7 separate regions of the Homo sapiens genome follow, and regions 1, 2, 3, 4, 5 and 7 are each reported to be linked to region 6. Evidence: microRNA targets listed by miRTarBase, many of them from high-throughput screens and not tested one by one. Region 6 holds a microRNA gene; each other region holds the end of a gene's coding sequence. Distances are from middle to middle.
Evidence for each region. The annotated mature microRNA hsa-miR-223-5p reads CGUGUAUUUGACAAGCUGAGUU and lies in region 6 at 3,198-3,219, shown strand. An mRNA with a match to its seed (bases 2 to 7 or 8) in the 3' UTR can be bound and repressed. Matches are read on the target gene's strand: a 7mer-m8 pairs with bases 2 to 8, a 7mer-A1 pairs with bases 2 to 7 and ends in A, and an 8mer does both.

Region 1 (4,691 bases), not on the chromosome of region 6:
TGCACCTGGCCTGGGGTATGTTTACTAAAATATTCCTTTGTAAAATGAAGCTAGCTGCTTTGCAGAATTGAGAATAAAGTTTAGATATGTACAAACATACGTGTGTGTAGGTAGGTGGAAAGACAGAAGATAAAAGTGCCCTCTACTATCGTATTTCTCTTCTCTCCCCTTTCAAGACCAAAATGACTCAGAACACAAACTCATGTATCAGGCCAATTAAATATCTGCTTAAAGGATTGCCCTAAAGGACTATTTTGAGTCCGCCTTTTTTAAAGTGTTTTACTTATTTAAAAAATATGGCTGGGCACAGCGGCTCACGCCTGTAATCCCAGCACTTTGGGAGGCTGAGGCAGGCAGATTACCTGAGGTCAGGAGTTTGAGACCAGCCTGGCCAACACAGTGAAACCCGGTCTCTACTAAAAATACAAAAATCAGCCAGGCAAGGTGGCAGGTGCCTGTAATCCCAGCTACTTGGGAGGCTGACACAAGACAATCGTTTGAACCCAGGAGGCGGAGGTTGCAGTGAGCCGAGATCACGCTACTGCACTCCAGCCTGGGTGACAGAACGAGACTGTCTCAAAAAACAAACAAACAAACAAAAAGTTATTCCTAGTTCTACTGAAACCTCGAACTATTTAGTCTTATTTTATATACCAACAACTTCCCAATCAAATCCCCTTTAAGTCCCAAACATTCAGCTTTTGTTCCAGAGGTCTGTGGAAAAGCAAGCTTTGTTATCAATGCAAAGGAAAGTGATCCATTCTTGCTGTGAAGCAAGTTCCAGGGAGGAAAGGAGTTGCAGCCAGAGATGTGATTCCAACATTCCCAAACGCTTCTGTCTGAGACCTTCAGATTTTGTTTGAAACAAATTCTCAGAATACCAAACACACCTTTATTCAAGTGGAAGTACAAAAGCACATTCCTAAACCAAACGCATACATGTGATTTTTACATATTCTGCTTTTTAGGGATTACATAATCCTGTTTCAGTCACCATACGTGACTACTGGTCTCTATACATAAGGGTATACATGTTTGACAGGAAAAAACACATGCATTTTTCATTTGCTTTTACATTTAGATCAATTCATTTATATATCAATTTCATTTAGATTCCTACCTTGCCTTGATGAAATCCTACTCTTGCTGATGGCAAAGAAGTAAAATATAGTGGCAGAACTATCCTAGAGGTTAGCCATAGGAGGATTATAGAGTGAGCAACATATTTTTATATATTTGTTGAGGGTCCCTACTGAATATTATAACACTGAACTATGAAAGCCTCAATTGCTGGACTGACAACAAGAATTTTAAATAACATTTGTCTTACTCACAAAATGTTATAAAGCTTAAGATGGAAAAATACAAAATGTTTTGACATTACCTAAAGAATCATGAACTCTTGTTAGGTATATGATGGTGGCCCTGAACTTGAGCCAACATCTGTAATCACTTTTATCAGTCAAAAAGCCATGTTCTTTTATATAGCCTGTAGACTATTAAAATACAAAAATGTGGTAATGGATAAACAACTATACACAAAGCCCTCACACTTCAAATACTGTCCTGGATTGATGAGAGAGGAGCAGAATTCAAACATTTATCTGCAATCCTAATGGTTAAAATTTTACCAGGAACAGACCTGCCACTCTCTTGAAATACTGTCTCTGAGATTAACATACGAACAGCATCATCTCTGTTGGAAGGCTACATTCCCTTATGATGCTGATTTGTGTGTGTGTGTGTGTGTGTATGGTTTTTTGTTTTTGTTTTTTTGTGTTTTTTTGAGAGAGAGTCCTGCTCTGTCGCCCAGGCTGGAGTGCAGTGGTGCAATCTCGGCTCACTGCAACCTCCGCCTCCCAGGTTCAAGCAGTTCTCCTGCCTCAGCCTCCTGAGTAGCTGGGATTACAGGCGCGTGCCACCACACCCGGCTAACTTTTGTATTTTTAGTAGAGACGGGGTTTCACCATGTTGGCCAGGATGGTCTCGACTGCCTGACCTCGTGATCCATCCGCCTCAGCCTCCCAAAGTGCTGGGATTACAGGTGTGAGCCACCATGCCCGGCCTGTGTATCTTCTTTATGTTTACCCTACCAAGAGCAGACCTGAGCATTTTGCTGGCCGTAGAGGTATATAAAAGAACTCTAAGCTTAGGCATGCAGAATAGGCACTGGATGAATGTAGTGAGGCTATTAGGAGTCTTGTTGGCTCCCTGATGTCCTTATCATGTCTTCTTCGCAGACTGTGGATGCACACAAGACAGCTAAAACCTTGGGCATCATTTGAAAATGTTTGGCTGCCTGCTACAATCTCAGGAGAGAGAATCCTTCATACTTATATTGGACTGGATATATTGTCAATCAAATTCTTTTTTAAAAAAAGATGCTTCACTTTAGGAAATAAGACACCAGACCAGCAACATCAAGTAGGTATGGAATACTTGCTGGTGAAACACTTAAAACTAGGAAACTTCTAAATCTTCTAAAGGTGCTTAAGAGAATGGAGAAGTTAATCAACAGGAATCCAAGTGTTGTGGCTGTAAAGCAATACGACATAAGATCCCTAGTAAAGAGCAGGCCTAAGAGTTGGTTTTGGAAAGAACTTGGGCCAAGAACAGCAGAAAAAGCTAAATGAGCTACTTACGTCGATGTGTTTTAATACTGGTGCATTAGCAGTATCTTATGGAAGTTGTGAACACTAAGAACCAATTTCAAAAAATATAAAAATGTTTATAGGGCATATTAAAATAAAAACAGCTTAAATGAGTTCTATAAATAAAATAGGCCCAGCACAGTGACACACGCCTGTAACCCCAGCACTTTGGGAGGACAGGTGGGAGGATCGCTTGAGGCCAGGAGTTCAAGACCAGCCTGGGCAACAAAGCAAGACCCCATCTCTGTTCTTTTTAATATCAAAATTATAATAAAAAAGTAAAAATAAACGTACCTACTTAGAATACATATTAAATAAAGGAACTCCATGAGAAAATGTCACTGCATTTACCAAGTCAACCCTAGATTTTTGTGCAATGAAAAAGATTGGGACTATGTATTAACAATTTCATAAACAAATAATCAACAATTTTCTCTCCATTATTTCGATGTTGGGTAAAGCCTGAAATGTGGTGTCGAGTTTTTCCATTTGCGTTACATCAAATTCTTGTCTACTATGGATATTCTGATATGACAAAGACTAGTTAAACTCCTATTGAAAGATCTGCCATTTACTACACCCAAATAAGTTCTCTTAGGTATAAATTCTTTGATGTTGAATGAGCGTTGGGTTATGACTGAATCTCCTCACACACATACATGCTTATTACATTTATAATCTTTTTGCATGGCGTGAATTTGATACTAAACAAGGTAGTTTCTTTGACTGATGGCTTTTTCACATTCATTGCAGCAATGGAATTTTATTCCCATGTGAATTCTCCAAATGTGACTAAGGTATGAAAATACTAATAGCATGAAAAATTTGCCACATTCAATACATTTGTAAGATTTCTCACTGGTATAGATTTGCAGGAGTCGATTAAGAGTTTAACACTAATACCTTTTCTTCATTCGTCACATTCAGAGGGTTTCTCTCTGGTGTGAATTATCTGATGCTGAGCAATGGCTGAGCTATGACTGAAGGCTTTACCACATGCAGTACATACATGATTTCTCCCTGGTGTGAACTCTCAGATGCTGAATGAAGCCTGAATTTGATAAATATCTTCCCATCTTCATTACATTCATGAGTTCTCTTTGGTATGAATGCTCTGATGTTGAACTAGATGTGCTCTCTGACTGGAGTTCTTTTCCCATACATCACAATCAAAGGCTTTCTGTCTGGTGAGGACTTCTTGTTGCAGGATAAGATCTGAGCTATGACTGAAACTGCCCTCATACTCATTACATTCATACGATTTCTCTTTCCTATGCATTTTGTGATGCTGAATAAGGCATGAGGTTTGACTGAAAGCTTTTCCACATTCATTACATTCATGTGCTTTCTCTCCTGTGTGAATTCTTTGATGCTGAATAAGATGTGAATTCAATCTGAAGTCTTTTCCACATTCACTACACGTATAGGGCTTTTCTCTGAAATGAATTCCTTGTTGTTTAATATAGGCCAACCCATATTCATCATACTCATAGGCTTTCTCTTCATGATGGACCCTCTGATGTTCAAGTAGGTATGAAGTATGGCAGAAGTCACTGCCACATACAGTACACTTACAGGGCATCTCTTTGTGAATTTTCTGATGTTGAGTAAGGTGGACACTACGACTGAAGACTCTTTCACAACTGCTACATTTGTAAGATTTGGCTCTGGTGTGAATTTTCTTATGCTGAATTATGCCTGAGCTTGGACTACAGGATTTATCAGACGCTTCACAGGATTTATCAGATGCTTCACATTTGTAAGGTTTTTCTCTAGTGTGTATTCTTTTATGTCGACTAAGACTTGAGCTCTGACTGAAAGACTTTTCACATTCTTTACATTTGTAGGGCTTCTCTCTAGTATGGATTCTCTGATGTCTAGTAAGGGCTGAGCTCTGATGGAAAATTTTCCCACATACATCACATTTATAGGATTTCTCAGTGTTAGGGATGCTCTCCCATTTATTAAGGTGGGAGAGATCCATTAAGCTTTCCTTACATTCACTACTCTGAAAATCCTCTGTTAGATTTAAGTGTTCAT
Region 2 (4,683 bases), not on the chromosome of region 6:
AAACACACCCTCAAACAAAAAGTCAGAGCTTCATTGCTTTATTGTCCTTTAAATGCTGTACTCCCTACTTCCTTGGCCTTCTGTCATCCACCTTTCAGAATTATCTGATAGTGATTTTATATATTCAGTCCAGGATTTTTAGTTGTAATCAGTAGGAAAGATCAGATGGAGTGTGCTTAGTCTACCTTAACTGGAACCAGAGCCCCTCTATGTAATTTGTAATGCTTTATCCAGTATTTTTCACTACATTGAATAGTTAAGGGTAGTATCCTTGAGTGTAGTGTAATTCAGTATATCAATCTATCCATATATTCGGGATCCAGCACCCAGTATTTGATATGTGGTATAAATTTGGCGATACAACCCTATTCTACCCTGTTTTAATTATTTTTGTTATTATTTTTATTGAAGCATAGTACCATTTTTGTTTCAACGTATGTATAGCTTTCCTGCCCTTGGCAGGGGGAGTTATCTTCATATTTAGACTATACTTTCAGTTTCTTTATGGTTGCCAAATCGACTTTTATTTTTCATTTGGATTACTGCTTTGCTTTGCAGTGTTGGAACTTATTTGTTGGAGAAATGTCTTCAGAGTCAGAAAAGGATAAAGAGAGACTGATTCAAGCTGCCAAAATGTTCTTCTTTCATGTACAAGATCTTGCTTCTGTCATAAACACACTGACTGAATTGTTTAGCCGCAGTATGAATACTCAAATCCTTTTGATGGCTGTGAAAAACAATAGTTACATTAAGGATTTTTTTGAGCAAATGCTCAAAATTTTTAAGGAGATGCAATCTGTAGTGGATGCAAGACATGACAAAATTCAAAAGGAGTCTTTATGTTCCAAGGTTGCAATGGCCATGTGCTCTGTGGTTCAGAAGAGTACCAATGTAGAGGAGTTGCATCAGTCAGCTAAAGAAGTATTCAAAAGTGCCCATACGCCAGTCATCATCTCTGTGCTAAACAGCAGTAACATCCTTGGGAGTCTGGAATCTTCTCTTTCACACTTGATGAAATTCCCCATCATGAATCTTCAATTAAGTGACTTCTATACAGAAGACACCAAAGAGCAATCAGATGTCACCACATCTGAGAGAACCAGAAGTCCTCCAGGTTCTTCCAAAACCACTATGATAGACACCTTGAAAAAACTGCAGGATGTACTAAAAACTGAGGATTCCAAAAATCCCACAAAGTCAGCAGCAGATTTGTTGGAACAAATTGTCAAGGCTATGGGACCAATCTTAGAGATCCTCCAAAAAGCGATAAAGACTATGGAAATGAATATTTCTGTGTTTAAGAAAGCCAGTGACAAGTAGGGATGCAACAGAAATGTTCATTTCTGTCAGAAAACTACTTAAAATCTTATGGTTTTTCATAGTAGTTTCTAAGATCTTTTGGTGCCAAACATGTGCTATGTTAGAACATAAGTACACAAAAGTCATCTGGCAAAACATTTACCTGTAGTTTTGCTTTATTAAAATAAAAAGAAATAATTAAGAAAGCCTGTTTGAAATGTCAGTCACTAAGAAGAATATATTGTTGAAAAAAACAAAGTGGTATTACATTTGAGGATGTTTCTAAATATTGTGTTTCATCTTAAAGCATAATTAAAACAACCCTAAAGTAGTTCCCACTCTTAACTATTCTATTTCCAGTGAGAAATCCAGGTAAACTGTAAATATTATCATTAGATAGAAAATCTAGGCCTGGGAAACAAAATAAACTCCATTTTTGTCACTCATATACCAATTTCTATATACTTCAGTACCTTGACGATCAGAAGCCATCACTAAATATTTTAAATATGATTCATAAGTAAGTGAGAACAGTGAATGAGCAATAATAGACTTTTCTTGCTTATGTGAGTAAGACCAGAACAGATAGTTCATTCTCACTTGTCTCCTGAGGTCTTATGATTAGAAAATACTAGAGGTGGAAAAATGGAAGTACTCTAGCCTTTCACAAAGAAAAGACTTTCACAAGGAAAACACTTGCAGAAGTAGGATATCTGAGATGTGCTTTATTTAAAGAAATGAGATAGGGCAGTCTCTTTGTCTACCATAAGTCTTTGGTTCTCATGCATTGTAAATGAGTATGTACTCCTAAGATTGGTGTTGAAGTTAACTATTTCACATGATACCTGATAGAACTCTGTTGAGAATAGGAAAAGCAATAATAACTCCAAGCCAAAGCCATCATTGTAATTCCCATTGTCATTTAAAATAAGGAGTCCCTTCTCCATCCTCATATAATTTCAAAATGTTTGGTAGGGAGGGTCAAGTGGATTTTGACCATTACCAGAGCTTGGAGGTTCTGGAAAAAACGATGAGTTTCAATACATTAACTCTCATTTTCTCTCCACAGCAAAGCTGAAACCTTGCTTATTTGTAATAGGTTTCTATTAAGAACTCTATTATTTTGAAGAGGATGTTAAATTGATTCATTTGCTACCATACACATACACACACACACACACACACACACACAGAGGGTGAGAGAGAGGAGAAGGGAGACAGGACTCTCACTTTGCTACTTTTTCTGGACCTATATGTGTCTAGGGTTTCAATCTCCTTTTAGTTTTAGGATTATGTTTCAGAATGTTGGATGCAACAGCTAGGGGGATTCATATGGAAATGAATGAGACAAGGACCAAGAAAAGTCTTGGTGCATAGTCTTTCTGTGAGGTGACTGGAAGAATAGCTGGTGGCAGTTCACAGGAAGTCCTTGCCAGATGCCAATGGGAATGACAACCAGGGTGTTAGAGATGGGAAGTGCCCACTTCAATAAAGATGAGTGGTCTTCCAGTGCTGGTGGCTGTTGTTAGGCTGGTGATCACTTACAGTGTTTCACATTTTCCCACCACTGGGTACCACCAGTCTGACCACTCTAATGACATCATGTCTGCTGCTGCCTCCTGGCTTCTGGAAATACTGAGGAAAAGCTGTATTTTTTTCTCAAACCTATTACTCACATTTAATGTTTCTCTCAAATACTTTGGTTTTGGGTTCCTCTCATTTTCTCTAATATCCTTCAGTTTTTGAAGAACAAAGTGGGGTGTGTTTCTATACTATGCCTGGTCTCATTCCTCCTCTAGGCTGTGAGCATGGGATGGCCTAGCTGTTTGAATGAATCATCAGTAGGGAGGAAAAAGTGAACTGCCACACAACACAACACATGATCATTTACTATTAAAAAAAATGAAATACTATTATACTTGTAATTTTTTTTATTAGTTGCCAGTGTTTGCTGCATCTTGGTATTTCTGAAAGCACCTAATAAATGCTTGTTGAATTTTACCAAATCAAGAGCTAGTTCATTCAGTGTAAATCAATTTGATTCATATTATTAGACAACTCAGTACAAGAATCCTGATTCTTCTAGCAAAACAAACTTTACTGAAATTTTCTTTCATTGGATTTTTTTTAAAGTAAGAGTAAATAGAGAACTTCAGGATAATCTAATAGGCGTATTAAAGAGAACACCTTGTTATAAAAATAAAGTATTACATGGGTTGAGTGTTTTTACTTTTTAAATTTTTCCTGTTTCAATCAGCTTCTTCAGATTAAACAGTATATTTCTGTACACATCAAAAGGAGACATACATGTATTTGTTTAATAAAATTACTATAGGACATAAGTACTCCTTACAGCACAGTCTCTGTTAACAGTTGCATGAATTTACACATATTTGAGCATCCGCCTTATCTTTGGAAGATATCCCAGGCTAACAAATTTATCCCAGCAGAAATTACAGTGAAATTTCTAAAACTAGTCTCTTAGAGTTTCATAAACATGTAACTTAATCAATTTAAATCAATACTCTACAGATTCCTTGCTCAACAACTTTGGACTATAGGGAGAGACTGAGGGGATGTGAGCTATGTACATTTATCCTTAACCAAACTCATGAATCTACATAATTTTAAGAGAATAGTTTCTGTCTCCAGAGATTTGATCTGTAAAACAGCAGCAGGAGTTAGAACTAAGTTATCTTTTTTAGAAACTTGGCTATTCCCTTAAGGATCATAATTGTGTAAGTCACAGTGTTCTCAAATGTTGGTGTATAGCAGAATCATCTAGAGGACTTATTAAAACAGACTGTTCAATTTCTGTAGTCTGTAGTCTGGGATCAGGCCCTAAAATTCACATTTCTAATGAGTTCTTAAAGGATGCTATTGCTGCTTGTGCCTAGAGAGTCAACGCTTTAGGAGAATTGTCTTACTCAGAAAATTATGACTTCTCATGGAAATCAAATGCTTTTGGCTGACTTTTTAGCTTCACTGAGTGGCTTCCAATTTCCTCTCCAGCCCACATTACCCCTCACTCTCTGCCAGACCTATCTGCTCCCTGACCTTATGCTGTACATACATCGATCATTCCGTATTCGCTTCTATTTTCTGCTTTCCTCTAAGTAAAACATCATCTCTGATAGAAAGCTTTATCTAACCATAGGCCAGAGGAATCACATTTTTCTCTCAGCTCCAAGCATTTAATATTTGGCCTTGTTTTGGGCACTACGCACTTGGCACATACTCTTTCTTGTTTTTTTCTCCTTCTGCTCACCCCTTCTCCCAGCCTAGAGCCCTAACGGCTGGTTCAAATGCAGCCTCTTACTTAAAGCCTTCCGGGTGTCTCTTCTTGCCTCAGTTGGAAGAAATCTTTCTTTTGAATTGTTATGA
Region 3 (4,691 bases), 9.4 Mb from region 6:
TAGGTAGTTTTTCAACCCACCCCCTTCTGTCCTTCCCCAACTAGTAGTCCACAGTGTCTATTGTTGCCATCTTTGTTTCCATGGGTACTCAATGTTTAGCTCCCATTTATGAATGAGAACATGCATTATTTGGTTTCCTGTTTCTGTGTTAATTTTCTTAGGATTATGGCCTCCAGCTGCATCCATGTTGCAGAAAAGGATAAGATTTCATTATTTTTTATGGCTGTGTAGTATCCATCATATACATGTACCACATTTTCTTTGTCTAGTCCTCTGTTGATGGACACCTAGGTTGATTGCATGTCTTTGCTGCTGTGAATAGTGCTGTGATGAACATATATGTACATAAGTCTTTTTGTTAGAAGGATTTATTTTCCTTGGGTATATATACCCAGTAATGGGGTTGCTGGGTGGCATGGCAGTTCTAAGTGTTTTTGAGAAATCTTGAAACTGCTTTCCACGGTGGATGGACTAATTTACATTCCCATCAACAGTGTATAAGCATACCCTTTTCTCTGGAGCTTCACTAGCATCTGTTATTTTTTGACTTTTTAATAATAGCCATTCTGACTGGTGTGAGATAGTACCTCATTGCGGTTTGGATTTGCATTTCTCTGATGATTAGTGATGATGAGCATTTTTTTTCATATGTTTGTTGGCTGCTTGTATGTCTTCATTTGAGAAACGTCTGTTCATCATGTCCTTTGCCCATTTTTAATGGGGTTGTTTTTTTTTTTTTGCTTGTTAAGTTCCCTATAGATTCTGGATATTAAACTTTTGTCAGATGCATTGTTTGCAAATATTTTCTTCCATTCTGTAGATTGTTTTTGCTACTGATAATTTCTTTTGCTGTGCAGAAGCTCTTTAGTTTAATTAGATCCCACTTGTCAATTTTTGTTTCTGTTGCAATTGCTTTTGGGGACTTGGCCAAAAATTCTTTGCCAAGGCCAATGTTGAGAAGGGTATTTCCTAGGGTTGCTTCTAGGATTTTTATAGTTTGAAGTCTTACATTTAAGTCTTTAATCCATCTTGAGTTAATGTTTGCATATGGAGAAAAGTAAGGGTCCAGTTTCAGTCTTCTGCATATGGCTAGCCAGTTATCCCAGCACCATTAATTGAATAGAGAGTTCTTTCCTCATTGCTTTCTTTTGTTGCTTTGCCCATTTTCTAACTGTTGTGTTTTTCTTTTGTTTACTGATTTGCAAGAGCTTTGTAAATTAAGCATATTAAATTTTGTGTGTTGTATAGTTTGCAAATATTTTTCAAGTTTGTCTTTTCATTTTGAAGAAAATATAATCTAGAATAAGTACATTTTTGGGGTAAAAATTATGGCAATAATTTTTTATATACAAAATTTAGAGGCAAAATGAAAAAATTAGCATTGATTCTACATTTTAAACACAAGGGATTCATGTTTTCTTTCATCCTTTTTTATTTAAAAAACTTCAAAAGAAAATGAAGGGAAATATATATTAAATATCTAATTACTTGGACATATATAATGTATTAATGCATTCTTCTACTGATAGACATTCAGGTTGTTTTCAGTTTGGAGCTTTTTACAAATATCACTGTAGTAATTATCTACATACAGTTTAAACAATTCTTCATATCTTAATAAGTTTTAAAAGGTTTCTCCCACTCTTCCCTCCTGTGTTCCCAAGTACTTTTCTATTATTATCAGAATATGAGGCCCGGCACGGTGGCTAATCCCAACACTTTGGGAGGCCGAGGTGGGCAGATCACTTGAGGTCAGGAGTTAGACACCAGCCTGGCCAACAGGGAGAAACCCCATCTCTACCAAAAATACAAAAAGCAGCCGGGCGTGGTGGCACACACCTGTAATCCCAGCTACTTGGGTTCTGAGGCAGAAGAATCACTTGAACCTGGGAGGTGGAGGTTGCAGTGAGCCGAGATCACTCCACTGCACTCCAACCTGGGCAACAGAGTGAGACTCCATCTCAAAAAAAAAATATATATATATGTATATATGAGTTTGTGATTTCCACAAAATGAATCACTTTATTAATATATTTGGACAGAGTGCCCTGTAAAAGGCATAAGGCATTGCTTGAAGGCAATTTTGCTTATCTAGGGAAGTATATAAAAAATGCATTTCAAAGTTCCTTAGCATATTAATGGTCCTGATAAGTATTGCACGAAATACTAGGTTCCATGATAGGCACAAAAAAGAAAGGATCCAACAGTTAAATAAAATTTAAGGGACCACTACAACCTCCTTTTGGTGAGCCACAAAACTCAATAGTGTAGTAAAACCCCTGAGAATTCCTACACTAAAGCCAACTTTCTAATTTTGCTTATATAGGGTTTTATAAATTTATTTACCAGATAATTTTTCTTCCCTTTAACATCTGTTACCATGCCAAAGTAGTAGTGTTTCCCCTAGGAAAATACTAAAATAAAATAGACAGATTAGCACCACAGATAACCCAAATCTAGATATTACTATCATATAAGTTGTCTTACCTAAACATCAAACATTTCATCAGGGCTTTGGATAAGGAAACAGACTTGGTTCTCTCCTTTTTTAATCTTTGATAATAAATAAAGACACATCACAAATAACTCAGATTTTGAAATGTAGTGCCATGGTGGAAATAGCATGCTTTGAGGTCAGATAGACCTGAGTTACAACCCTAGGTTGGCCACTTACTACATATGCAGACTTGGATAAGTGATTTAACCTCTCTGCATATCAGTTTTCTCATAAGTAAAATGGGAATAGTAACATTCATCTTACAGTTGATGTGAGGATTAAATAAGATCATATATATCAAGTACACACCAAAGTGGCTGGCATATACAAAGTTTTATACAATATGTACACTTGTACACAGCAGAATTTCTGTAAGGGAAAGAACTGAAGACCTGGGAACCCACGAACAGATTGTAAGCTTCTGAATAATTGCTAGCTTTTTTCATGAGAATAGGATTAGAAGTTTCATCCGATCAGAGCTATAAGCTCTATGGTATTTCTATTACTAACATTCTTTTAATATTTAATTACACTGGGTTTATACCTGTGAGTGTTGCAAAAAGAAGGTCGTCGAGCTTTTCACCAGGCCAAAGAGAATCCCATGTGTAAAGTTGTCTGCCACTACTTAACAAACTCATAGCATTTTAGGAGGGTTACAGTGTAGGAAGGATGCTTTTTTGCCCTTAGTGGGGAAGACTAGGTTATTAACTGACATAATGGAGTCAGGCAAAAGAAAGCTATTTGTAATCTGTACCATTTCAGAGACCTGGAATGAAACAGGAGGAGGCTTATAATTCACAGTATGAGAGTAAATAACCTTAACGGAATGTTTGGGTGTCTGGATCCCCGGAGTTTTTTTCAGCACAAGTGACATAAGTGTGAGTTTGCAGGGAATAAGGGCATCTTTTTTTTCAGCACACTGCCAAGGGAAATTATGTATAGAACTTCTGCTTATGCATGCATTACAAGAGTGAAGAATTTAAAATCTTTTTCACCCAGGATAAGAACTTATTTCTTTTCTAGTTCTTCTCCCAAGCCGCCTTCTTAGCAGTCCAGGTGCCACTGTATGTGTCTCCCTCAGAATACTGACCTGTCTGAGAGATGCAGGAAATGTGAAAACTGCTATGTTTCCGTTTCCACAGCAAGAGATGATGAGCCTTCTGGATAATCTGCAAGGTTGAAACGTGAAGATGATCAAATGTCCCCGTGCCTTATATGGGTGGGTATTCATTCACTGGCAGTTTTCCTTCTTGTTCAATCTCTGCAGGCAACAGATACCTGCAAACCTCTAAAGACTGATGTGTAACACAGAAGCATTTGTAACCAGACATTCACATTCTAAGAATAGTCAGCCTGCTATACTATGAACTAAGATTATTTATCAGCATTATCTGATCTATAATACTGGCTGGTATTTGACTTAAATAGCTATGATGACAGCTCAACATAATCTGACTTTAATGGAATGTTTTGCATCTTGCTACCCACAAAATTACCCTGTTTTGCTGTTATTCCACCGGACATAATTGAGTTAGCTATTACAGTACTTTAGGTGATGGTGTGTTTCTAAAAAAGGAATGAGGTATCTAGAAAATAAGAGGCTTTGGGATTAACAAGCAACATCATTTATGGTACAAATGTTTTTGTTTCTGACCTCCAGCCTTTTGGGAGAGCACACTCTGAATCAGCTTGCTGAATGTACAGGTAATCACTTTTCTCATACTCACAGCATAATAATATACTTGGCATTTTGAGATTAAAAAGTTGACAGTAGCCATCCCCTACAGTTTCTGCACAGCACAGTGTCTTTTATGTGCCATTCAGAGTGCTTTCTTAAGTGTGAAATCTAGATTCCTAAAGACAGAGGCCAGCCAGTCAGTGTGAGTTATCCTTGCCACAGAAGGCTGCAAGCTCTCATGCCACTGAGTTAAACAGGCAGATTCCAGACAGCAGGTTGCTTTCTTCCAGGAAAACTGGAAAAATAAAAGTGGCTCTGAGAATGTCTCTTTGGAATCATGACCCTATGGTAGGCCCAACATTCTGTCTTGTCTGGAATCCTAGCCTTAGGGTATTCTTCCCTTTAAGTTTGGGCAGAAAGCAAATGTATTGGCCTAGGTCTTCAGTGAAAGATACACAGAAAATAACTTTATGTTTATCAAATAAAGAGAAAAAGAGGTTGCAAGTGCTTAAGCAT
Region 4 (4,691 bases), not on the chromosome of region 6:
ACCTGTAATCCCAGCACTTTGGGAGGCCGAGGCAGGCAGATCACCTGAGGTCAGGAGTTCGAGACCAGCCTCACCAATGTGGCAAAACCCCGTCTCTATCAAAAGTACAAAAATTAGCCCGGCGTGGTGGCACATGCCTGTAACCCAGCTAGTTGGGAGGCTCGGGCAGAAGAATCACTTGAACCCGGAAGGCAGAGGTTGCAGTGAACCAAATGGCGCCACTGCACTCCAGCCTGCCTGAGTGACAGAACTAGACTCTATCCAACAAAAAAAAAAAAAAAAAAAAAAGAAAAAGAAAAAAGCACCAGGACACCTGGATTCAAATTCTGATTCTCTAGATTCAAATACACTTATCAGTTCTGTGATCTTGGGGAAGCCACTTAACCTTCTGCATATAATATTTTTTTCTATAAAAGGAAAGAATCATTCTTAGGATTGTTGTCAAGGATTAAATAAGTAATGTGTGTGTTAGCTTCTATGGGAGGTCTGACACCTGGTGGGTGTCTAATACCGGTTGGATGCATCTGTTGGAACATCAGCTGCCTTATCCCATCGCCTATAAAGTGAGAAGTGACATGTCTCAGTTTTTAATGACTTTCCTCCCCTCTTATGTTTTATTGATGAGAAATTCCACCTCCCTCTTCACCCCTCATCAAATTCTATAACTTAGGCTTATGTAGTGACCCTGTTTCCTGGCCCACAGGTGAATATTGACCACTTCACTAAGGACATCACAATGAAGAACCTGGTGGAACCTTCCCTGAGCAGCTTTGACATGGCCCAGAAAAGAATCCATGCCCTGATGGAAAAGGATTCTCTGCCTCGCTTTGTGCGCTCTGAGTTTTATCAGGAGTTAATCAAGTAGTAATTTAGCCAGGCTATGAAATCATCCTGTGAGTTATTTCCTCCATAATAACCCTGCATTTCCCATTAATCTACATATCTTCCCACAGCAGCTTTGCTCAGTGATACCCACATGGGAAAAATCCCAGGGGATGTTGCTTACTCTTTTTGCCCACACTGCTTTGGATACTTATCTACTGTCCGAAGGCCTTCTTTCCCCACTCAATTCTTCCTGCCCTGTTATTAATTAAGATATCTTCAGCTTGTAGTCAGACACAATCAGAATCACAGAAAAATCCTGCCTAAGGCAAAGAAATATAAGACAAGACTATGATATCAATGAATGTGGGTTAAGTAATAGATTTCCAGCTAAATTGGTCTAAAAAAGAATATTAAGTGTGGACAGACCTATTTCAAAGGAGCTTAATTGATCTCACTTGTTTTAGTTCTGATCCAGGGAGATCACCCCTCTAATTATTTCTGAACTTGGTTAATAAAAGTTTATAAGATTTTTATGAAGCAGCCACTGTATGATATTTTAAGCAAATATGTTATTTAAAATATTGATCCTTCCCTTGGACCACCTTCATGTTAGTTGGGTATTATAAATAAGAGATACAACCATGAATATATTATGTTTATACAAAATCAATCTGAACACAATTCATAAAGATTTCTCTTTTATACCTTCCTCACTGGCCCCCTCCACCTGCCCATAGTCACCAAATTCTGTTTTAAATCAATGACCTAAGATCAACAATGAAGTATTTTATAAATGTATTTATGCTGCTAGACTGTGGGTCAAATGTTTCCATTTTCAAATTATTTAGAATTCTTATGAGTTTAAAATTTGTAAATTTCTAAATCCAATCATGTAAAATGAAACTGTTGCTCCATTGGAGTAGTCTCCCACCTAAATATCAAGATGGCTATATGCTAAAAAGAGAAAATATGGTCAAGTCTAAAATGGCTAATTGTCCTATGATGCTATTATCATAGACTAATGACATTTATCTTCAAAACACCAAATTGTCTTTAGAAAAATTAATGTGATTACAGGTAGAGGCCTTCTAGGTGAGACACTTTTAAGGTACACTGCATTTTGCAAAAAAAAAAAAAAAAAGTAATCTTTTAGCAACCCCAGTATTCCTTCACTATTTCGCTTCCTGCATTAGCAAATTTTACTTACAGTCAAAAGTGCAGATTTATACTCCTGACGTGTCTCATTCACAGCTAAATAATAGGCCATAGGACTTTTGGTAGGTTTAAACTTTTAATTCTGTATTTCATGATTATAAGTCTTGCTAGAATTTTTTCTAATCTTTAGTAGATTTGATTAAATAATGATTCACAGAATTTAGTAACAGAATCAAACTAAGCCATGTATGAGGGTAATCGAGATGAGGATATTAACTCAAAAGAAATAGGGTGATTTTTAAAGGATTAATAAAATTCTGAAATGTTAAGTAGAAGATTACATTGTCTAGTCTTGTATTTCCTCCTTCTGTTGCTCTCTTTCATTCACACACTCTCAGTTTCTCATATTTGTAGCTCATTTATTTGGTTATTTCCTAAGAATATTGAAAGTGAAGCAACTATGTGACTGTATTCTTCAGGTAAACACTGACTGCGCTTGTTGGATTTTCCCTATTTTTGTGACTTCAAGAATAATATGCCCTGCTGAATACATGCCATTTCACATTCTGAAACTGGGTAGAGTGGTTGGGTGTTCTGCCAACAATTGCTAGTGGTGTGAATTCATTCATATTTGCCAGTATTGCTCACTTCAAAGAAACTCCTTCATCAAGCAGTCCAGAGCTAGGCCAGATCAATGCTACAATCATGAAGTTCTCATTGCATGCAATTGTGTAGGATTGACAAGGAACTCAGATAAAAATTTCCAGGGTGCACTTCCAGAACCAGCTTCAACATATGTCTACATTGCCCCCAAGTTAATAAAGTGCCAACCCTTTACTCTCTCATACAGCCAGAAATGTTAGAAATCCAAAATCTTGGTGCATTATTTTTTCATAAACGCTAAAACATTTGAAGAAACAATTTAATTATTTAAAATTCAAGTATTTTATTCACATTATTTGCAATATCCAAATGTTTAAAAATTCCCAGATAATTAACTAGCTATTACAGATCTCACCTAGAGGGTTGATGTTATGAAGACTCCAGTGGACTGTACTCACAAATTGACTGGACACCCTATGAAAGTGGGTAGACCTCTCAGCGGAAAATAAGAAGGGCTTTTACCTACAGGGCAGGACAGGGTCCCATGAGAGCAGTTCTGTGGAGATATAAAAAGAATGGAAGAAGGAATGCCTTATAGTGATATTGTGACATTATATCTATATATCTACATATATCTATCTATCTATATCTACATCTATATAATCTTACATTTAAAATTGTATTCCTACACATATTAGAAACTCTTCTAATAAATGAAGTAAAAAAATTAAAAAGAATACAAATATTCCAGCCCCAAATGAGAAATCAAACATATTAAAATTGTTCAAGAAAATTTCTTTGAACACTTCTGAAAGTTTTTGGAAACTTAGAAAAGAGGGAAAAAAATCCAGTGTTACTAGTAATTTCCATGGTAATACAGATAAAATACATTCTTTTAATTCTGGGAAATTAGAAAAAGTGGGGTGATCTTTCCAGGAAAAACATGTGTAACATCTGCTTATCACTCCAGCTCCCTCCTCCTCCTCCTCTCCACGTTCCCTTGAGTAAATGTCTGGGAAAGCATGAAGCTTGATGCAAGAACCCTGTTGTACTGGCGTTTTCCTCCCCTGTGAAAACGTAACTACTGTTGGGAGTGAATTGAGGATGTAGAAAGGTGGTGGAACCAAATTGTGGTCAATGGAAATAGGAGAATATGGTTCTCACTCTTGAGAAAAAAACCTAAGATTAGCCCAGGTAGTTGCCTGTAACTTCAGTTTTTCTGCCTGGGTTTGATATAGTTTAGGGTTGGGGTTAGATTAAGATCTAAATTACATCAGGACAAAGAGACAGACTATTAACTCCACAGTTAATTAAGGACGTATGTTCCATGTTTATTTGTTAAAGCAGTGTGAATAGCCTTCAAGCATGTGAATAATCTTCCATCTTCCCCGCCACACATACACACACACACTTTTTGTTTCTTTCAGGTAGACACCTTTTAAAATGCAGAACTAACTGAGGCATTTCAGTAACTTTGCTTTCAAATCAATAAAGTCAAATGTATGGAAACATTTTGTGCCCTACTCTCCATACCCCGTGTACTCAAATTCTCTACTGTATGAATTATGCTTTAAGTAGAATTCAGTGCCAAGGAGAACTTGGTGAAATAAATTATTTTAATTTTTTTTTTATCCTTTACAAAGCCATGGATTTTATTTGGTTGATGTGTGCTCTGTACACAAGCCATTTCAATAGGATGGAGCTGTTAATTATTTTCCAAAGAGTAATAGACATGCAAAAGTTTCAATAAAAACTGGGCCATTAACAAATAAATTAATAAACTAATAAGCATTCCCTTCTAGGTTTTTGCCAAACTGCCTATCCAATAACAAATTTGAGAATCGTTGTAAAAGCTAGTTATATTTCAGAGAAATGATTTTCATTATTGAAACTGTTCTCCCTAGCAGGCCATTTTCCCTTTTTCCTGGGAGTTTAGCAAGTTTAGGAGAGAATAGTCATGAAAAGAAAGGGAAGAAAGGGGAGAAGGGAAGAGGTTAAAAAGTAAGTGCTCAGACCTATGAACGTAATCCCTTTGCTACAAATATTTAAGAGCAGCTCAGCTTGGTTGAAACTGAGTTTTGTCATCTTCCATATTTGCAGGAAGGTAT
Region 5 (4,691 bases), not on the chromosome of region 6:
TCCTTGCAGCTGAAGACATGGGGATGATAAAAAGACTGACCAGTTCCGTCTTTTACTCAGCAGAAGAATCACCTTCTGGCATAATGTACTCAGGTCAGGGATTGCCGAACTTTAACATGCATGACTCCTGTGGACTTTGTTAAAATGCAGATTCTGATTTCACAGGTATAGGGTGAGGCCTGACATTGTGCATTTCTAACAAGTTCCTAGGTAAAGCTGATCGAGCTGATTCTTGGACCACACCATGAGTAACAGGGGTGTGGCACAGTGGAGTGATTAAGAGCACTGGCTTTAGTGTAGGACACTCTGAGTTCTGCCGAGGGAATTTATCATTACCTTTTCATTTTTTTTTTTTTTTTTTTTTTTTTTGAGACAGAGGCTTACTCTCTCACCCAGGCTGGAGTGCAGTGGCGGGGCGTGGTCTTGGCTGACTGCAACCTCTGTCTCCCAGGTTAAAGCGATTCTCCTGCCTCAGGCTCCCAAGTAGCTAGGACTACAGGCATGTGCCAACACACCCAGCTAAATTTTGAATTTATAGTAGAGATGGGGTTTCACCATGTTGGCCAGACTGGTCTCAAACTCCTGACCTCAAGTGATCTGCCTGCCACAGCTTCCCAAAATGCTGGAATTACAGGCATGAGCCACCGTGCCCAGCCTCATCATGATCTTAAGCAAGTTACTTAATTGTTGTGGGCCTCAGCTTCCTCATATGTAAAATAGCAGCTCCTCCACACAGTTTTGTTGTGAGGATTCAATGAAATATTGCTCAACAAATGCCACTGTAGTTTTACTATTACATTCTTGGGATGTATTTCTCAAAGGATGAGCTGTGATTCACTTGCATTAGAATTCTCTGTATTAAAGTTACAGATCCCTGAATCCACCAGAGACCTAATGAAGCAGGACCCCTAGAGATGCAGCCCAATAAACAGCCTTTTAAATAAGCTCTGCAAAGAGCTGGTACCAATCCTATTGAAACAATTTTTTCAAAATCGAAGAAGAGATATTCCTTCCTAACTCATTCTATGAAACCTCTATCATCCTGATACCAATACCTGGCAAAAACACAAGAAAAAAAGAAAACTACAGACTAATATCCCTGATGAACATTGACATGAAAATCCTCAACAAAATACTAGCAAACTGAATCCAGCAACATACCAAAAAGATAATCTACCATGATCGAGTGGACTTTATTCTTGGCAGGCAAGGATCATTCAACATATGCAAGTCAATAAATGTGATTCACCACACAAACAATTAAAAACAAAAACAATATGACCATATCAATAGATGCAGAAAAAGCATTAGATAAAATCCAACATCCCTTCATGATAAAAACCTACAAGGCATAAGACATCAAAAGAACATACCTCAAAATAAAAGCCATCTCTAACAAACCCACAGCCAATATCATACTTAACAGGCAAAAGTTGGAAGCATTCCTCCTAAGAATGGGAACAAGACAAGAATGTGTACTCTCACCACTCCTATTCAACATAGTATTGGAAATCTTAGCCAGAGCAATCAGGCAAGAGAAAGAAAGAAAAGACATCAAAAGAGGAAAAGAGGAAGTCAAATTATCTTCCTTCACTGACAATATGATTCTATACAAAGAAAACCCTAAATATTCCACCAAAAGATTCCTAGACCTGAAAAATGACTTCAGTAAATTTTCAGGGTGCAAAATAAATGTACAAAAATCAGAAGCATTTCTATACACAAATAACATTCAAGCTGAGAACCAAATCAAGAATGCAATCCAATTTACAGTCACCACAAAAAGAATAAAATACCTAGGAATACATCTAATCAAGCAGGTAAAAGAGCTCTACAAGGAGAATTATAAACATTGCTTAAGGAAATCATAGATGACACAAATAGAAAAACGTTCCATGCTCATCTATTGGAAGAATCAATAGCATTAAAATGTCCATACTGCCCAAAGAAATACACAGATTCAACAAAATTCCCATCAAATTACCAATGTTATTCTTTACAGTGTTAGAAGAAGAACTATTCTAAAATTGATATGGAACCAAAGCAGAGCCTAAAAGCGAAAGCAATCCTAAGCAAAAAGAACGAAGCCAGAGGTATCATATTACCGGACTTCAAACTCTACTCCAAGGCAGCAAACTAAAGGTAACCAAAACAGCATGGTACTGGTACTAAAATAGACACAAAAATTAATGGAACAGAATAAGGAACCCAGAAATAAAGCTATACATCTATAACCAACTGGACTTCAACACAATCAACAAAAATAAACAATGGGGAAAGCACACCCTATAATAAATGGTGCTGGAAAAACTGGCTAACCATATACAGAAGAATGAAATTGAACTCTTACCTCTTACCATATACAAAAAATAACTCAGGATACATTAAAGACTTAAATGTAAGACTTCAAAACATAAAAATTCTAGAAGAAAACCCAGGAAATACTCTTCTGAACATTGGCCTAGGCAAACAAATTATGACTAAGTCCTCAAAAGCAAATGCAACAAAATGAAAATTGATAATGGAGACCTAACTAAATTAAAGAGCTTCTGCACATCAAAAGAAACTATCAACAGAATAAATGGACAATCTACAGAATAGGAGAAAACATTTTTAACCTATACATTTGATAAAGGAATAATATCCAGAATCTATAAGGAACTTAAGCAAATCAACAAGAAAAAAACAAATAACCCTATTAAAAAGTGGGCAAAGGACATGGACAGACACTTCTCAAAAGAAGACACACAAGCAGCCAACAAATATAAGAAAAAATGCTGAACATCACTTATCATCACAGAAATGCAAGTCAAAACCACACTGAGATAACATCTCATGCCAATCAGAATGGCGATTCTTAAAAAGTAAAAAGATAACAGATATTGGTGAGACTGCAGAGAAAAATGGAATACACTGTTGGTGGGACTGTAAATTAGTTCATCCTTTGTGAAAAGCAGTTTGGAGAGTTCTTAAAGAACTAAAAATATAACTACCATTTGACCCAGCAATCCATTACTGGGTATATATCAAAAAGAAAATAAATCATTCAACCAAAAAGACACCTGCACTCACATGTTTATTGCAGCACTATTCACAATAGCAAACGTGGAATCAACCTAGGTACCGATTAATGGTGGACTGGATTTTAAAAATGTGGTCTGTATACATGATGAAATACTATGCAGCCATAAAAAATAATGAAATCATGTCCTTTGCAGCAATATGGATGCAGCTGGAGGCAATTTTCCTAAGTGAATTAACACAGAAACAAAAAATCAAATACCATATGCTCTTGCTTATAAGTGGGAGTGGAATACTGGGTACACATGGACATAAAGACTGAAATAATGGACACTGGTAACTCCAAAAGGGAGGAGGAAGGGAAGGGAAAACTATTTATTGGATACTACTTTCACTATTTGGGTGATGGGTTCAAACGAAGCCTACATCTCAACACACTATAACAGTGTAACAAACTTGCACATGTACCTCCTGAATCTAAAATCTAAAAGCAAATAAATAAATAGGCCAGCTCTGTAGAGGGGAAGCCATGTCTAATGGCAGAGAACTGATGGCTTCAGTCACGTGAGGACAGAGGAGCAGGAGATAAAAAGGTAGAACTGTATTGGGTCAGCTTCAAGATGCTTAACTGTAACCCTGCCTGATCCTCCCACATTTGCTCATATAGGCTACAGAAAAAAATAAAAGACAAATACACAGACAGACAGACATAGGACTACTTACCTTAGCTATAAAACTCGCACCTCCAGGCCAGTACCAGAGGATGGAGTGCATTTTCCACAGTAACCACCGCATTTCCCTACGACTCGGGTACCATCCTGCAAGGAGATGCATCATGTTAGCCTGCCTGCTTGGTTAATGCTTTCAGGGCCTGCACTGGCTTTTTGGGAAAACGTTCTTATACACACAGTAAACAGGCCTTCTGAACTGATGTGAAGCCCAACATACTCACCATGGTCTAAAGCAGGGGCTGGCAAACTTCAGCCTGTGAGCCAAATCCAGCCCACCACCTGTTTCTGTATGGCTTGCAAGCTAAGGATGATTTTTATATTTTTAAATAATTGAGAAAAAGTAAACCAAAAATTACATTTCTTGACACATAAAATCATATGAAATTCAAATTTCAGTGTCTATTAATAAAGTTTTATTGGAATACAGCCACATTCATTAATTTACCTGATGTCTATAGCTGCTTTCATGCTGCAAAAAAAGAACTGAGTCTCAGCTTCATACTGCTTCTCGGTGCACAACAAATCACAGTGACATTGTTTTAATTTGAGAGTGTTTTGAGTGATGTGTGTATTGCTAGATCATTACAATTTATGTGCTTATTACCAGTGTATACCATTATGACAAATCAAGAAAAGAAGAGAAAGGTAGACTTTGAATGTTGCACTTTTAAGGTACAATGGCATGTGGATTATTTTGTTATCAAATTTAGATGACAAAGGATTGTGATTATTATGAAATGACACTATAGCTGTGCTAAAAGAATACAATATATATCATCACCAAACTAAATACTCATCACAATATTCCCAACTCACAGAAAAACAATGGTCAAAAATTTAGAAAATTTAAAATATAAAATTAAAAAACATGAAAATGAGTAAGTTTCCAAGTTGCTCATTTGTTAGCCAAGCAAGGAAAACAATTTACCAATGGTGAGT
Region 6 (4,691 bases):
TTGGCCTTTTATCCTAGAGGTTCTAATGGAGGGGAAAAGGGGATAGGATATTTTCTATCCAATCAGGATGTTTAGGAGATAGTCACATGGAAGTGGAATGGCCTTTGGACCCAGGAGTCAGGAAACCTGAGTAGCAGTCCTGGTTTTACCATTTACCCAATGTGTATCTTTGGGTAAGTCCTTTCTCCAATCTAGGACACAGTTTTTTCACCCCTTTTGCAAAATAAAAAAGTAAAAAGAGGAAAAGAATGATTAGATAGATGCTGTCTAGAGACCCATGGTTATTAGATTCCTAATTTTCATGATTGTCAGCCCTCTGTCAAGAAAGAAGATGAGAGTAATCTTTGCATATGTAACTGTGGGTGGGGCTGAACACATTCAAGAGGAGAGTGCTGGTGGTAATCCATATAGCACTCTCTGAGAGGCATGACTCAAAGATGAAAGCCTCTTTTCTAGTCCAATCTTTGACTCCTAGAGATTCAAAATTGAAAGACTCTTAGAGACTAGGTACATATGGAAGAAACTGAGGTCCAGAAAGAGGAAGAAAGGGACTTGCCCAAAGTCATACAGAGAATCTGTAGCACAGCTGGGTCTGGGCTCCCAGGTCAGTCCTCTTTTTGCTCTATCCTAGGAGGACTGAGACATCAAGCAGCAGGACCTGTCCTGTAACTGACCCAGGACAGGTCCTGCTCATACTAGAGGCAGTCTGGGATTTTTAGGCATGGTCCTGAGGACTTCTTCTTTTCTTCTATTTTTCTTTCAGGTACTTGGCTCACTCTGAGTGTTCAGAGATTCCTAGACACCTACTTACCCCTAATTCTTCTGGTCTATTCCCTCCAATTCCCTCCATAAAAACTGACCCATCCTTTGCATCAACAATAGTGGCTTGATGACGCTCTTCAGTAGAGGATTTTGCATTTCATATGGGGAAAAATGATGTTATTCTAAGTAATATAACAGACCAAGAGAAGAGCTTTCAAATTCCCTTAATATCATCCCATATAGATATTTATGTCTTCTTTCTATGGGTCTGGTGAACATTTCTCAACTGAATGTGATTTTCTTACATACACTCCATTGGAGAGGCATACCAGTCTAGTTTCAGCTCAACCACTAACTCCTTCCATTAATACTGAAGCAATGTTGTCTATAAGGCTCCACAAATTTCAAAGTACTAATAATTTTTAGCCCCTTTCATGCCTCCTTTCCAGCCTTTCTGGAGGTGAATAAAGTCAGAAAGTGCATTCAAAAGGCTGTGAACACCTCCAGCTTATCTAGGTCTTCTTACTGGAGCTGACAGCCAATGAGTGTAATGATACAAAAAAGGTAACAATCCATTTCTTTTTCTCCTGCCATCCCCAACTCAGACTCTGTTAATCAGCTTGCTTGGCTGGCCTCCAACCATAGGTCCAGGGGCTGAGACAAGGTCCTTTTGAGCTCCTATGTGGGAGGCTCTGGAAAGCTTAGCAACACTTTCCAACAACTTTGCCAGGTAAGTAGGTAAGTCTCCTTGTTCTCATTTCCAGAGAAGACAACTGAAACCCAAAGAAAGACTTGCCCAAGCCATGATTGGCTAGTTGATGGCCAAGACAGCATTAGAACACAAGTTTGTCGATTCTGTCATGCCATATTTGGTGACCATGACTGCTGCTTTTGCTGCTGGGTGGATTAGGCTGAATTGGGTAGGTAGAAAAGGAAGTGAGGGAGTGAAAGAGCTTTAGTTTTGAGATGACTGCCAGAACTTAAATTGAAGGAGTATGTTACCTTCTTAACATTCAATTAAAAGAATAGAGCAAGAAAAGACACTGATTGTTTTCTTGCTGAAAGACAAGGCTGAATCCCTCTGTCTTACCTGGGCTGGGACAGGGCTTTCCGGCCTCATGGGGGCAGTTTACCATTTCTGGTAACCTTGTGATGTTTGCCACTTTTCATGACAATATTTAATGTAGACCAGCTACCTGCTCACAGATCAACTGCCACAGCTGGTAAGGGCAGTAATTTGACACCAGCAACCTGGGATTTTTAGCAACAGGATCTGATTGTTGCCAAGGGAATTCTCCCAGAAGTTTCAGACCTGACCCTGCTCCTGGCAGCTTCCTTATTGCCCTGGTGGCTTGTGGGTTCAGTGATCCCAAATGTTGCATTACAAAGCTATTGCCTGTTTTTGCCCTCTTTGTTGATGTGTCTTCCCTTTCCCAGAGGGATATACAGAGAAGGGAGGCAAAATAACCAATGAGGAAAGCTGTATAAGGCATACTGCTGAACTGTAAAAAATTTATTGTATAAACTTTACAAGTCTCCTCCCCAACAGGAGCCTTTGTTATCTCATTTATAACCTAAGTGAGTGAGACTAGATGATCTTTAAGGGCACTTTAATAGCTGCCATTCTTGAGTCCCTATGGGACAAGAGGATCATGTTAGGCAAGGCTGAGACCACAAGAAATCAATGTCACACCTGTCCAGATCCTGCTAAATCAATTGCCAATAGCTCTTTCTTTCATTTTGGTCACACAACCACTACTTTTTGAGCATTTGTTATGTATTGAATACTGAACCAAAGGCTTTACATGCATTATCTCCTGTCATTCTCACAATAACCTTATGAGGTAGGTATTATACTTACATACATTTTGTGGGTGTAGAAAACTTGAGCTCAGAGAGGTGAAATGATGTATCCAAGGTTGCCTAACTAGCTAATGGAAGAACTAGGATTTAAGCTCATGTTTAACCTCAAAGCCTATGTGCATAACCACAACACTGAAAACACAGCTTGGGAGAATTGAGAAGAGGGAGCAAGGATGCTGACTCTAGGGTCTGGTACTTTCCTCAAGTCAGGGAGGCAGGATGATGACCAAATTTTCCCCTCTCTGCTGCATAGAGGAACCCACTGAAGCTTGGGACCCCTAGAAATGCCATAGCTACAGGACTCAGGCCTGATGAGCTTCCAGCTGAGCACTGGGTGTCACTCGGGCTTTACCTGCTTATCTTCAGGATCTCTCTTCTGGTTAGGAACCCTATGCCTATTTTGCTCACTTCCCTATTCTGGTGCTTTGGTTGGTCCTTTGAGCAAGATCCCCGGGGCTAAGGGTGTGACTTCATCATTCCTTTCTCTCTCTTTCCCTCTAGGGTCACATCTCCCAGGAAGATCTCACTTCCCCACAGAAGCTCTTGGCCTGGCCTCCTGCAGTGCCACGCTCCGTGTATTTGACAAGCTGAGTTGGACACTCCATGTGGTAGAGTGTCAGTTTGTCAAATACCCCAAGTGCGGCACATGCTTACCAGCTCTAGGCCAGGGCAGATGGGATATGACGAATGGACTGCCAGCTGGATACAAGGATGCTCACCAAGCACCAAGTTCTCACAAGTTATTTTATGTGACTTTGCAGGAACTGAGGCATTATATCTGAGGACACCAGGGGAAAAGTGTGGCATCTCAGGGAAATACAGCCCTGGGCTGTGTCTACACACACCATGAGAGTGCTGATGGGGGCGCAATAGTCTTGAAAATGTATAAAGTGTCCAGGAATGGAAGTGCTCTTTGATTCATTATTATTTTCTTCCTTCATATTCCCCTCCCAGAGTCTCCTATCTAGGACATCAGCATTCTCACACAAGCCTAATGGCTTATCTGAGTAAGCAGGGCTTAGAAATTCACTTTCTTGATACTCAGTCTTGCCTTCTAAACACTCCTTGATCTTGCCTACCTCTCCCCTTTTCCACATGTCTTTTCCTGTAGGAACACTTTCTCCATTTATTCCTGCCTATCCAATTCTTCCCTATATTTCCTGGACCAGCTAAAGTCCAGTGTTTCCAGAGACTTTTGAAAGTCAACTTACACTTTTTCCTTCTTCATTCACAAAGCTCTTCTTCCCTGGGCCCTGGTATGTATGCCTTTCTCTCCTACTGTCTAATAGCACCTCGTAAATTGTCAATGAACTTTTCTAAGGGGTATTCTTGAATTCCCAACTAGATTGTGAGCTTCTGGAAGACAAGGCTATGTCTTTGATTGTTGTCTCCCCTACCACAGCCCAGTACTTTAGTTACAGAAAATAATAAATATTTACTGATTGATTGACTTTCCTCTTGTCCACTAGCTTTAGGTTTGGGGGCCAAATTCTACCCTGGATTTTGAAAAATTCAAACTGTGAACACCACAATGTTATAGAGCATATGAGGTAGTAGCCAGCATGAAGGATGTTTTCTTCCTGAGAAACAGTGTCAAGGGCTGGAGGAAGAGGGCAAAATAGCAGACTCAGAGGGCAAATAAATTTTGGTATTACTTGGTCACACAAGGTTATACAGGTGTTTTCTTGTAGGATTTTTCAGAGCCTTTAATAGTCTAATGTTGCATTGAGAATCTCAAAGAGGAAACCATAGAATGAGGCATTTGCCATACCTATCTGATCATGAATTTTCTTTTCCCCCACAGCCTTCTCCTGTGTCAATGTCCAATGAAGCACGATTTGGGAAACTGTCCTAGAGAAACTTTATACCTTCCCGCTCTTCTGGAGATCTTTTCCTCTTTTCATTCATCTACTTTCCCCAACCAGCCATCTGCCTAAGAAAGGTCACATGTTATCATCTCATTTTTGTTTAGCCTCTGCAGCTGTGGACTATCTTTATTACATAGGAATTCTTTACTAGCTTGTCCTGTATTTAAAAATATTCTAAGTTTTGAGGCAAAGAAGATC
Region 7 (4,691 bases), not on the chromosome of region 6:
GTTGTCACCCATGGGCTGGGGACTCCTGCTCCAAAGGGTAACATTTTAACATTCAGCTTAAATAAATTTCACCAAAAATATCTCAACAATTCAAAGAGGAGTGTTCCTGACACCAGATCACTTTATTCAACAGAGCAGCTCCCAAAGTCATGAAGTACTACTTGGTTTAAAAATAAAGCTGTTTTTCCCACGTACACACATTCAACAAAACTATCTTTGGTATTACTTTACTGAGTGAGGTTTAAAGGAGTTTGGGAAAATATTACAGCCTTCTTCCTTTTCCCAATGCTAAAAGTTTTGTGTATTTTTTCCACATGCATTTCTTTGTTCATATATATTTTAAAAAGTCTAAACAATTAGGATATTGTATCTTTTGCTCTGTAATTTTTTTTCCTCATCAGCCTCTTCTCAGGCCAACATATACATATCTAACATTCTTTTTAGTGGTGAGAGAATATTCTATAATATTACATGTATGTACCATAATTTATTCAACCATTTACTTGCTAATTAACATTTAGATTTCCAGTTTTTTTTTTTTTTTTTTTTTCATTTTTATTTTTTGAGACAGACTTTTGCTCTGTCACCCAGGCTGGAGTGCAGTGGCATGATCTCGGCTCACTGCAACCTCCACCTCCTGGGTTCAAGTGGTTCTCCTGCCTCAGCCTCCTGAGTAGCTGGGACTACAGGCACACAACCCCATACTCCACTAATTTTTGTATTTTTAGTAGAGATGGGTTTCACCATGTTGGCCAGGCTGGCCACAAACTCCTGACCTCAAGTGACCTGTGCTTGCTTCAGCCTCCTAAAGTGCTGAGATTACAGGTGTGAGCCAACACATCTGGCCTCTAGAATATGTTTCAATAAACATCTGTGTCCTTACATTTTTATGCATGGAAGCTTTTATTTTTATAATTTCTCAGAAGGTTGTTCACTGAAAGTTATGTGTATTTGATTTTAATTCACACCCAGATAACTTTGCCAGCAATGTTTCTGCCAATTTCCTTGCATCTTCACCAAAATGGATATTGTCACTATTTAACCTTAAACCAATCTGATAAAAACTAGTATTACAGTAATACTTTTTAAAAAACAATCCATTAACCCTTATAATGAAGATGAACACACTTTATATTTGTTGACTTTTTCAATGTCCTGTTCTGTGAATTGCTTATTCACAGTGTGACCACTTCTCCAATAACTTAAACTTCTCTTTGTATACAGGGACACTGACATGTTTCCTATTACTATACAAATATTTCTTCTAGTCTACTTGTTGTTTTAACTTTGACTGTGGTCCCTGCCATATGACATTTAAATTTTTTATTAAGTAAAATATGTCTGTGTTTCCAATCTTGTTAAAAAGATCACTTCCACCCTAAGGTTGTATAGACTTTTCTTTGAATGTGTCTTTGTATTGTGTTTCCATTGTTGGGACCAATGTGAGAAATTTCTGCAATTCTTCTAAAAAATATTTTTTTTTTCAAAGAAGGGAGGGCAAGGGCAAAGAGCAAGAAAGGAGGATGGAGATGACTGGTCCATGGTTTTAGTTAAGAAAAATCCTAGATATCAGAAAATAAGATTTGTTAATGTTGTGAATCCTTATATGATCACAAAGCCACATTCTTAGGAAACACACAATTAAAAAATGTATTTTGATGTATCCACTCCATTAATGTGGATAATGAAATTTTACATATATGTATATCATTTTATATTTAAACATTTCAACAATTTTTATTCCCACCTTCCTTGAATGCTGCTTACCTATCAACTTAAAAAGACGGTAGAAAAGAACAGGGTATTCGGGAAAGTTATTCCATCCTCCTTACATTAACCAAATACAAATATGGAAATTCTTGATTTTAAAATGTCACATATTTTAAGTCAGCTAAATTGGCAACGATATTAAAACAATAGTATACCCCCTAAAAAAGTTTCTGCATGATTGTTTATTTAAAATATTATGACTCTGGATGTAAATACATATGGGCTTACATAATGTATGATTATCCATATAAATGCTCAATTAAAATATTTAGTTCATCCTTAAACACCTTTTGTTCTAATAAGCATAATAGTAAATATTTTATCTCATTGGAAGTGTTTAAAGCTGTTTGAATCTTGATTTGTGAAGAAATTACTGAAAAATAACTTAAGGTTAACTACATCAAACAATACTATTGTTTGCAATGCTGTCAGATTTCTCCATGGCAAAATAGTCGCATATGGTTATTGCACGATTTATAGGTACAGGTTATTATGTGCATATAAACTCTCTACATAATGACAGTGTTTGCACTGCAACTTGCTCAACACATTTAAAATTGTTGAAATACAATTTACAAAATCTTTAACAACATACTTTTAAGATAAAAGTATCCTGAGGATATTACAAAATTCATTTTACCAGCCCTTCATTTCTTTGCTTTGACTCTTTAATTTCCAAGATAATCGTTGCCCATATTTTATTACATAAAATGCTATTATTATATATTTCCTATTAAACAAAATATATTTAAGTTAAATAGTACATAATTGTCCCATAAACACTTAGTCCCATCTGCCTGTAGTCTCATTGGTTAAAATCAAGTATTTATCAAGTTTTCTATAATTCTGAATCAGAAAAGGTACAGCACAAAACAGACAGAAACAGGGTTAGCACATTTAAGTTAAAAGCATTGTGCATTTTAAATATTTTGGTCATATTTTATAATAAAATATTTTGGCAAAAATAAAATATAAGGTTTAGTTTATTTTCTATTAATGGTAGATCTGGAGAGTATTTTACATTTCTAAATAGTATCTACTTAATTTGACTGCTTTCACATTTGTTTCTGAAAACACTGCTATTCGCTTTTCAGAATTTTGAGATTAAAAGCACCTAAAAATAAGATAAAATAAAATTTAAGTAAAATATTTGTTTGATGCTCGAAAGTTGACAAATTCACAAACTTACTTTAAGTGTCTTACATGATATATGCCACCACAGAAACTTTATTGCCTGCTAAGACTTATTTGACTAAATCTAATCTTTAAAATAATAATCCTGATAGTCTCCTTGAAACTTATTTGAAAATTAGGATGGGAATTCAAAAATTTTTTAAAAATGAAAAGCACAGTTGCAAAAAAAAAGTTATTCTGGTGGCAATAGTTGTTATGGCACAAAAACACATGAAAAACCAGTTTTCGCTAATATATACAACTAAGTTCAAATAAGATGTGTAAGATACACACACACACACACACACACACGTATACATACATACAACTTGGGTTCCGGAGGGTAAACTACTGAAAACCTTACATATTGAGCCATCTAGCTCATTTATCACTGACGTCTCAATGACAATTTTAATGAAGATGTTCATTATTTTTTTCATTCTTACTCAAATACCTATCATTAATTAAGAGAAGAGTTTGAGATGTATAAGGCTAATAAAGGAAGTGAGAGTGTGGTGAATTAAGTGATGAGTATTATGTACAATTGCCTTTACAAAAAACGTATTTTTACTGTGGAAGAAATTCATGCAGAGATGCCTGTGGAAAAGTATCAATAAGAAAACAAAACACCTTTAACACTATGACATACTGATTATAATATACTATGATATGTATTATTACAGCATTACTTACACATTCTACTTTAGGCAATGTAATCTACTTCTGAATGACCTTGTTAATTTTTAAGGCATCAGTGCATCAAGGGCAAAGCTCCATAAAATAAATATAAAAACAAGAAAGCATTAGCTAATTTGTGGCATAGAGAATGATCACTGTATATTATATCTGTTGGCCACTTCCATATAGGTAATAAATTGTACATCTTATTGTAAAAATGTTATAGCATAAATTTCACATCATTTTTCAACACTTCATTTAAAGGGCTAAACTGATCTGGCAGTATTCTCATTTTCATTGTTCCATCAGCTCCACAGGAGAAAATGTGATTTGCAGGCCCTGTCTCAATTTGCATCACTCCAGTTCCAATATTTCTAAAAATGGACTGCCGAGCATGTTCACTGACAAAAGTATGGAGAAGACCAAAGGTAGAGAGACTCCAAATCTGAAAGATATTAAGAACAAACGGAAAATTAGGGTTGATGATGACCTTAAGAAATCAAATGAGGCCAGGTGCGGTGGCTCATGCCTGTAATCCCAGCACTTTGGGAGGTCAAGGCAGGCAGACCACCTAAGGTAAGGAGTTCAAGACCAGCCTGACCAACAAGGAGAAACCCCATCTCTACTAAAAATACAAAACTAGCCCGGCGAGGTGGCACATGCCTGTAATCCCAGCTACTCAGGAGGCTGGGGCAGGAGAACTGCTTCGACCCGGGAGGTGGAGTTTGTAGTGACCCAAGATCACACCATTGCGCTCCAGCCTGGGCAACAAGAGTGAAACTCCATCTCAAAAAAAAAAAAAAAAAAAAGGAAAAGAAAAGAAACCAAATAAAAATTTTAGGCCTGCATTCCTGTGCAGTAAGGAATTTCCAAAACAAAAATAGAGAAAAATCTGTGTAGGCCTAGGATCATAACACCTTGATTCTGTATAGAGTGTTGTAATCTACCAATTGCTTTAACACAAAATACTTAAAAATCCATCTAGTAAGAGAGTAAGAGAAACAATGTAGGTAACAAGGAGGTTAAGTGTACAATGCTACAGAAACTTACAATACTGTAGGGATTAAAAT

Region 1: the mRNA of ZNF655 is a reported target of hsa-miR-223-5p. Seed matches in the 3' UTR shown: 7mer-A1 at 2,067-2,073 and 7mer-A1 at 1,748-1,754.
Region 2: the mRNA of C12orf60 is a reported target of hsa-miR-223-5p. The part of its 3' UTR that is shown has no 7-base or 8-base seed match.
Region 3: miRTarBase lists ZDHHC15 as a target of hsa-miR-223-5p. The part of its 3' UTR that is shown has no 7-base or 8-base seed match.
Region 4: miRTarBase lists RGS5 as a target of hsa-miR-223-5p. Seed matches in the 3' UTR shown: 7mer-A1 at 3,981-3,987.
Region 5: miRTarBase lists ADAMTS9 as a target of hsa-miR-223-5p. The part of its 3' UTR that is shown has no 7-base or 8-base seed match.
Region 7: the mRNA of DMXL1 is a reported target of hsa-miR-223-5p. The part of its 3' UTR that is shown has no 7-base or 8-base seed match.

Annotation. Positions count from the first base shown.
Region 1 is chr7:99,572,632-99,577,322 of GRCh38, reverse strand. It overlaps ZNF655 (zinc finger protein 655), which reads right to left. Exons shown (of 3, transcript NM_138494.3): 3 at 870-4,691. The coding sequence ends at 3,739. Among named protein-coding and RNA genes, the nearest start is that of ZNF655, 16 kb to the right of the region's middle.
Region 2 is chr12:14,822,354-14,827,036 of GRCh38, forward strand. It overlaps C12orf60 (chromosome 12 open reading frame 60), which reads left to right. Exons shown (of 2, transcript NM_175874.4): 2 at 559-2,062. The coding sequence starts at 583. The coding sequence ends at 1,320. It overlaps ART4 (ADP-ribosyltransferase 4 (inactive) (Dombrock blood group)), which reads right to left. Exons shown (of 3, transcript NM_021071.4): 3 at 3,216-4,683. Among named protein-coding and RNA genes, the nearest start is that of SMCO3, 11 kb to the left of the region's middle.
Region 3 is chrX:75,375,533-75,380,223 of GRCh38, forward strand. ZDHHC15 (zDHHC palmitoyltransferase 15) reads right to left here. Exons shown (of 12, transcript NM_144969.3): 11 at 3,588-3,666. The coding sequence ends at 3,620. Among named protein-coding and RNA genes, the nearest start is that of UPRT, 100 kb to the left of the region's middle.
Region 4 is chr1:163,143,516-163,148,206 of GRCh38, reverse strand. RGS5 (regulator of G protein signaling 5) reads left to right here. Exons shown (of 5, transcript NM_003617.4): 5 at 704-4,691. The coding sequence ends at 865. Among named protein-coding and RNA genes, the nearest start is that of RGS5-AS1, 16 kb to the left of the region's middle.
Region 5 is chr3:64,518,422-64,523,112 of GRCh38, forward strand. It overlaps ADAMTS9 (ADAM metallopeptidase with thrombospondin type 1 motif 9), which reads right to left. Exons shown (of 40, transcript NM_182920.2): 39 at 3,745-3,839. The coding sequence ends at 3,750. Among named protein-coding and RNA genes, the nearest start is that of ADAMTS9-AS1, 41 kb to the right of the region's middle.
Region 6 is chrX:66,015,698-66,020,388 of GRCh38, forward strand. MIR223 (microRNA 223) reads left to right here and starts at 3,173; the gene lies at 3,173-3,282. MIR223HG (MIR223 host gene) reads left to right here. Exons shown (of 3, transcript NR_170299.1): 2 at 1,368-1,492; 3 at 3,127-4,691.
Region 7 is chr5:119,246,370-119,251,060 of GRCh38, reverse strand. DMXL1 (Dmx like 1) reads right to left here. Exons shown (of 44, transcript NM_001290321.3): 44 at 1,934-4,066. The coding sequence ends at 3,842. Among named protein-coding and RNA genes, the nearest start is that of MIR5706, 94 kb to the right of the region's middle.